Linked DNA regions of Homo sapiens. The protein of the gene in region 1 purifies or fractionates together with the protein of each later gene. This does not show direct contact. Each region holds a gene or a part of one and is shown in the gene's direction. Other genes may lie near its edges.

Region 1 (3,926 bases):
GGCCTAATTCCTATAATGGGAGCCACCCAGGAGCATAGGTTCACACCCAAGGACCTCCCAGGCCCTCCCCCATCTTCTCTAAGGGAACTGCAGAGCCAGGCCCTGCCTGACCCCAGAAACAAGACTAGTTTCCCAGGAAAAGATCCTAGGGCAGGAGTGGAGCAAGTGACAGCTTGTTTTTTATTTTATTTTTATTTTATATTTTTTGAGACAGGGTCTTGCTCTGTCACCCAGGCTGGAGTGCAGTGGTGCGATCTCAGCCCACTGCAACCTCTGCCTCCTGGGCTCAATTGATCCTCCCACCTCAGCCACCCGAGTACCTGGGACTACAGGTATCTGCTACTACGCCTGGCTAATTTTTGTGTATTTTTTGTAGAGACAGGGTTTTACCATGTTGCCCAGATTGGTCTCGAACTCCTGGGTTCAAGCGATCCATGCGCCTCAGCCTCCAAAAGTGCTGGGATTACAGGTGTGAGCCACCACTCCCAGACGTGACAGCCTGTTAATAGCAATAATAGCACTTTGAATATACCAGACACTGCTTTTCCACAACTTTTTGAGACATGTTTTGTTAGCAACTCCATTTTACAGATGAAAAAACAGAGGCTCAGGGTGGTAAGTGGCATGCCGAAGGTAGTGGCAGAGCCTAGGTGCTCCAACCCAGGCAGCTGGGCTCAGCCCACTCCGATCCTCTCCAGCTGCCTCTCTGTTACAGCGCAGAACATCAGCAGCATCAGGAGTCATGTGCTCTTCCAGCTCTGCCTTGAGTACCCGATGACCTCGTTTCCTCAGCGGTAGATAGCGATGGTTAATATTGGCTAGCCTGTAGAGTTATCGGGAGACCAACGCACAAAAAGGGTTTAATACCGTGCCCAGCACATAGTAAGTGGTCAATACATGTTAATTGTTGATATTCTTGTTATCTGTGGTGTGTCTGGGCCGGGAGGGAGGGCTGCAGGGCGGTGTCTACGCACACTTTACAGGTGAGGTCATCCCGCGGGCTGGGGGTGCCGGGCCCCTCGCTGGCCCACGCCCAGCCAGGTGCACCCGCGGCGAGAGTCCGGTGGCCTCAGGTCACAGGCCCCTCCCCGCCGGACATTTAAGGAGGGACGCCGGGCGCAGGCGCAGACAGCGCAAGCCCCACGCCACGCGTCGCTGGTCCCAGGCAGCGAGTCGCTCGCGCGCCCCGCCGCCCGCCTGGCGACAGCTCCGCCGCGCACGCACATGGAGGGGAGCGCGAGCCCCCCGGAAAAGCCCCGCGCCCGCCCTGCGGCTGCCGTGCTGTGCCGGGGCCCGGTAGAGCCGCTGGTCTTCCTGGCCAACTTTGCCTTGGTCCTGCAGGGCCCGCTCACCACGCAGTATCTGTGGCACCGCTTCAGCGCCGACCTCGGCTACAATGGCACCCGCCAAAGGGGGGGCTGCAGCAACCGCAGCGCGGACCCCACCATGCAGGTAGCGGGGCGGCGAGGAGCCTGGCAGGTGGAGGGCCCTGGTCTGGAGCGTGGGGGCAGCGGAGGGGCGGGGCCTGCGTAATGGTAGTGGCGGGTAACTGGAGGGAGGGTGCATTTTGGATGGTGGGCGGGACCAGAGCAAAGGGGCCTGACCGAGAACCTCAGCGGGTGGGATGCGAAAAGCTGAGCTAAAGTCTGGCCTTGCAGGTTAACAAAAGGGGGGGGAAAGGAAAGGGAATGGGGCCTTGGTCCATGTCCTTCCCCCTCTCCACTGGCAGATTTTGAAAGCTGTGCTAAGATTCTCTGAGGTTTAGGGCTCCAAAGGAAGTCCTCATCCCTGTAGCTCCCGGGATGGCGAGGATTTGGGGATTGTGGAACCCAGAGTGAGGAACCGCACCCTGGTCATTGTGCCCCTACAGGAAGTGGAGACCCTTACCTCCCACTGGACCCTCTACATGAACGTGGGCGGCTTCCTGGTGGGGCTCTTCTCGTCCACCCTGCTGGGAGCTTGGAGCGACAGTGTGGGCCGCCGCCCGCTGCTAGTGCTGGCCTCGCTGGGCCTGCTGCTCCAGGCCCTAGTGTCCGTTTTTGTGGTGCAGCTGCAGCTCCACGTCGGCTACTTCGTGCTGGGTCGCATCCTTTGTGCCCTCCTCGGCGACTTCGGTGGCCTTCTGGCTGCTAGCTTTGCGTCCGTGGCAGATGTCAGCTCCAGTCGCAGCCGCACCTTCCGGATGGCCCTGCTGGAAGCCAGCATCGGGGTGGCTGGGATGCTGGCAAGCCTCCTCGGGGGCCACTGGCTCCGGGCCCAGGGTTATGCCAACCCCTTCTGGCTGGCCTTGGCCTTGCTGATAGCCATGACTCTCTATGCAGCTTTCTGCTTTGGTGAGACCTTAAAGGAGCCAAAGTCCACCCGGCTCTTCACGTTCCGTCACCACCGATCCATTGTCCAGCTCTATGTGGCTCCCGCCCCAGAGAAGTCCAGGAAACATTTAGCCCTCTACTCACTGGCCATCTTCGTGGTGATCACTGTGCACTTTGGGGCCCAGGACATCTTAACCCTTTATGAACTAAGCACACCCCTCTGCTGGGACTCCAAACTAATCGGCTATGGTTCTGCAGCTCAGCATCTCCCCTACCTCACCAGCCTGCTGGCCCTGAAGCTCCTGCAGTACTGCCTGGCCGATGCCTGGGTAGCTGAGATCGGCCTGGCCTTCAACATCCTGGGGATGGTGGTCTTTGCCTTTGCCACTATCACGCCTCTCATGTTCACAGGTAAAGTGTGTGGGCTCAGGGACAGCTTGTCCCAGAGGCACTGGGTAAGAACTGGGGGCCGGCCACTCACTGCCCCCAGATGTGGTTCATTCCTGTGTCTTTGGAAACATAGTTATGCCCCCAGCCTGCACTGGAGAACAGACAACTAAGAAATCCCTCAAAAATGCCATCTTTGATACATGGAAAATATAGACCTTCAGTAGCTAAAGTAATTAACCCACTGTTATCAACCATTAATATTGTTAGTAATATAGAGCAAAAGACAAAAGTGTGGCTCATACACTAATTGCTTTACCCCTTGGCCTCCCACCGCCTATTCATATGTTCTTAAACAAAGTCCATGCCATTAATGCCTGGTACTCACTTCTCTGATAAGAATCACAGGACCTACCTCAAATACCCTTAGTCAGCTTCTTTGGGTTTTTTAAAAACCAGTCTTCTCGGACCACAGATATGAAATTCCTGCTTCAGTTCCTCTTCTCCTCTTTCTCCTTCTCCTTTCCCTCCTCACTTCCTCCCCTTCTTTTTTTGATGGGAGAGGGTCAACAGGCCAGTAAATGAGGAAGTTAACTTTTTAAAATTTTTATTTGATTGATGTATTTAGAGACAGGGTCTCGCTTTGTTACCCAGGCTAGAGTGCAGTGGCACGATCATGGCTCACTGCAGCCTCATCCCCCGGGCCCAGATGATCCTCCCACCTTGGCCTCTCTAGTAGCTGGGACCACTGGTGCACATTACCACACCTTGCTAATTTTTGTATTTTTTATAGAGATGGGGTCCTCACCATTTTGCCCAGTCCAGGTCTCTAACTCCTGAGCTCAAGGATCCGCCTGCCTCAGCCTCCCAAAGTGTTGGGATTACAGGCATGAGCCACCGTGCCCGGCTTTAGTTAACTTTTTTTAAAGGGACAGATTTATTTTGATAGAGCCCTAAAATGTGCTGTGTATAGTCAACAATACAATAATCACAGATTTCTTAACTCAACTGCTTGTCTGACAATTAAGCAGAAGGGAACCTTTCCCTCCTGCTGATGGCCCTGGGGGATGCAGAGATGATAAAGATGCTGTCATTGCTCTGGGTCGGGGGGAGGTCTCAACAGAGTGGGATTTGAGGGGCCTGACACTGCTAGGGTCCCTGGATGCCTCATCGTATACCTTCTTTGGAGGATCCACTGTCCTGTAGGAGTTTGCAGTTTTGCTGAGG
Region 2 (3,500 bases), on another chromosome or scaffold:
CCAGCAAAACAAGGAAGTATACCAAGAAAGAGGATACAGAAAATGGCAAATGGAGTGCAGGAGAGGGGGCAGGGAATCCCCGGATGGCAGCTGTGCACAGGCAGAGAGATAACCCAGGCCTGCCACCCCTGGGAGGGATGCCTGCAAGACGATGAAATGCAGATGGGACTTGAGGCCTCTGATCTTGGGAGATTTTGATTGTTAGTGAAGGGTTTAGGGTGGAATCTGGATTCAGGATTCAGAAAACTTAGCAGATAAAAAGGTAAGAGAATGACCTCCAGGGAAAATAAAAAGAAAAGATGTGCATAAAAAGAAAATACAAGCATTCGTTTAAGTTAATTGCATGGCAGAGCTCTGAGCAGCATTTGCGCAGTTAAAAACGTACAGTCAATCTTTAATGTGAATATTGATCTATATTGGGATGATGGCGAGATGGGAAGTTTACATTGCAAGTGATGGAACTGAATGGAAATGGAGTTCAGTCCTCATCTTCCATAGTGAGAAGTCAATACACTTTGCCTAAAATGAAAAATCAAGACACAGCAATACACACATAGTAGCTAGACTTGAAGGAAAGTATCCAAAAACCCTATCAAGAGTTGAAATTGGTGGCCTCTGGGCACTTTCTCTGTTATACGTCTTACAGAATGGTTTGAATTTTTTAAGCAATATGACTGTATAACTTTAATAAAAAACTAAAACTAAATGTAGTATTTTGCAGAAAAGAGTTAACATTAGCAGGCCTGAGACTTAGGCCTGTTCGCAAGGTTGGCCCTTGGCTGGCCTCTGGGAGCTTACATTTTGCAAGGGTACCCACCATTTCCCAGTAAGGATGGCTCACTGCATAAACTCTTAAACAATTGATAAACAATGTGGTTCATGCTGAATGCCTGTGAGTCTGACATTTTGGTACGTGCTAGGCAGAGGGTGCTTATATGACCAGCCCACAATACAAACCCTGGGACTTGAGTCTCTAAGCAGCTTCCCTGGTAGAGAGCCCTTCACACGTGTTGTCACAGCTCACTACTGGGGCATTAAGCTCTACCTCTGACTCCCCTCAGGGAGGAGTCTTGGAAGCTTGCACCCTGTTTCCCCCAACTTCACCCCATGCACCTTTTTCCCTTTGCTGAGTTTGCTCTGTGTCCTTTCTCTGCAATAAATTACAGCCATGAGTGCAACTATTAGGCTGAGTCCTATAAGTCATCCTGGTGATCATCAAACCTAGGGGTGGTCTCAGGGACGCCCAAGATGCAAATATGCTTCGATATTAACCGATGGCAGTTTTCTTTTCCTAGCGTGGAGATTGGTGAAAGCGTGAGAGGGGAAGATGTCTACATCATCCAGAGCGGCTGCGGGGAAATTAACGACAACCTGATGGAACTCCTCATCATGATCAATGCCTGCAAGATTGCGTCATCATCCAGAGTAACTGCCGTGATCCCGTGTTTCCCATACGCCCGACAAGATAAAAAGGACAAGGTAGGAGAGGTGTGTGCCCTAGAAACCTGCTGTGGGCCACTGTCAATGTTGTTTTTCCTCATTTATCCCCTTGATTAGAATTATCTGGAAAATGTTGGCTTTTTCCTTTGATGATCAAGTAAATATGCTTTCTTATTTTGTTTGTTGAAGATTTGGCTTTGAACCTACCCTGACATTAATATTCAAAGAAACAGGTAATGCATATTTTTGCAGGTATTAAAATACCATTATTGTCCTTGTTATAATGAAATTATTGTATGTCTTTGTGGTGGTGGATAGAACTAAATACACACACATACATGCACAAGAGTACAAGTCAAACTAGAGCACATCTGAATCAGATCACTGGATTGTATCAATTTCAGGGTCCTGGCTGTGATACTGTGTTATAGTTTCACAAGACGTTACCACAGGGAACTAGGTAAAAGGTTCACAGGATCTCTGCGTTGTTTCATACAACTGCATGTCTATCTACAATTCCCCCGAAATAAAAAGTTTAATTAAAAAAAAAACCCATGATCTCTTTTTAACCTTTTAAAAAGAACAGAAATAGTATCATTGAATTATGTTTTTCACAACATTAGCATCAGAGGAGGCTCTGTGAGTCTTTAGAAAAAAATTGAAGAAAATGTGGTTGGTCTTTGCCTTTCAGAGCAACAGAGAAATCGGAGGTTGAGAAGAACTTTGAAGGAGATTGTATTAGTTTTCTAAGCTGTCATAAGAAATTACATAAACCGCGTGGCTTAAAAGAGCAGAAATTTTTCCCTCACAGTTTCGGAGGCCCAGAAGTGTGAAATCAAGGAATGGGCAGGGGCACGCTCCCTCTGAAGGCTGTAAGGGAGGCTGCTTCCTCGCTTCTTCCAACTTCTGGTGTCTCCTTGCATTCCTTGGCTGTGGCTACATCACTCTGGTCCCTGCCTCTCTCTTCACCTGGCCTCTTCCCTGTGTCTCTTCTCTGTTTCTTATAAGGACACTGTCATTGGATTTCAGGCCTAACCTAATCCAGAATGAACTCAACTTAATCTTTACCTTGGTTATATTTGCAAAGACCCTATTTCCAAAATGAGGTCACATGCTGAAGTTGTGGGTGGACATGAGTTTTGGGGGGATATTGTTTGACCTACTACAGTGGTCAACTCCCAGCTGTTGTGTGTTCCGTATCTTATGGATAGATAGATGTTCAGCCAGGCTCAGCGAGAATCCTGCCAGTTTTCAAGACACACTGCTGTTCTGTGATTTGGTAACTCAGTGCAAGAAAGGTTTTCCCCAATATGCTGCTTTTTATCTCCATAATTCATTTCTGAAACAACACAGATTTCTGAAGCAGCACACAAGATCCCCTCATATTTGAAAAAAACCCTTTATAAATTTGAATTCATATACCAAAGTCCCCCTGAATTTTAATCCCAGTCTCCTCAAGACATGGTTTCCATTCCCTGTCTTGAAGATGGCCAGTCAGTTAATTTCTCACCTAAAATCTAATTAGAAGGGTCCACATACTTTATCTGTAAATGGCTATATGGTCTGTGTTGCAACTATTCAACTCTGGTTGTACTTCAAAAAGAGCAATAGACAATATGTAAATGAATGGGTATGGCTGTGTTCCAATAAAACTTTATTTATGGACACTGAAATGTGAATTTCATATTATTTTCACATGCCTTGAAATACTATTTTGAATTTTTTTCAACCATTTAAACATGTGAAAGCCATTATTAGCTCACAAGCAGTACCAAAACAAGTGGCTGGTGGCTGGTGGCTAGCTGGATTTGGCCTATAGGCTACAGTTTGCCAACCCCTGTATTAGACCATTGATAGATTGCGTGCGCACGTGTGTGTGTGTGTGTGTGTGTGTGTGTGTGTATGTGTGTGTGTGTTTATGATCTAAACTTGACCTTGGGCAGCCAAAACCTTAGGTCACATACACTGCTGTGAAGCTGTATCCTCCCACTAGCTATTTATACAGACAGCTCCTTTTATTTTAAACTTGATTTAAACTGTATTTTTAGCTGTTAAATTTC

The links. Proteins that work in one complex are often made in the same cells at the same time.
Region 2: the proteins of SLC46A1 (region 1) and PRPS2 purify together in Homo sapiens (affinity purification with mass spectrometry; one large-scale study listed by BioGRID and IntAct). This does not show direct contact.

The regions. Positions count from the first base shown.
Region 1 is NC_000017.11:28,403,413-28,407,338, reverse strand, and holds the start of SLC46A1 (proton-coupled folate transporter), read left to right. Parts: upstream 1-1,126; 5' UTR 1,127-1,224; coding exon 1,225-1,452; intron 1,453-1,870; coding exon 1,871-2,723; intron 2,724-3,289; exon of another isoform or gene 3,290-3,926.
Region 2 is NC_000023.11:12,797,912-12,801,411, forward strand, and holds part of PRPS2 (ribose-phosphate pyrophosphokinase 2), read left to right. Parts: intron 1-1,295; coding exon 1,296-1,479; coding exon of another isoform or gene 1,480-1,488; intron 1,489-3,500. UniProt on the Homo sapiens protein: Catalyzes the synthesis of phosphoribosylpyrophosphate (PRPP) that is essential for nucleotide synthesis.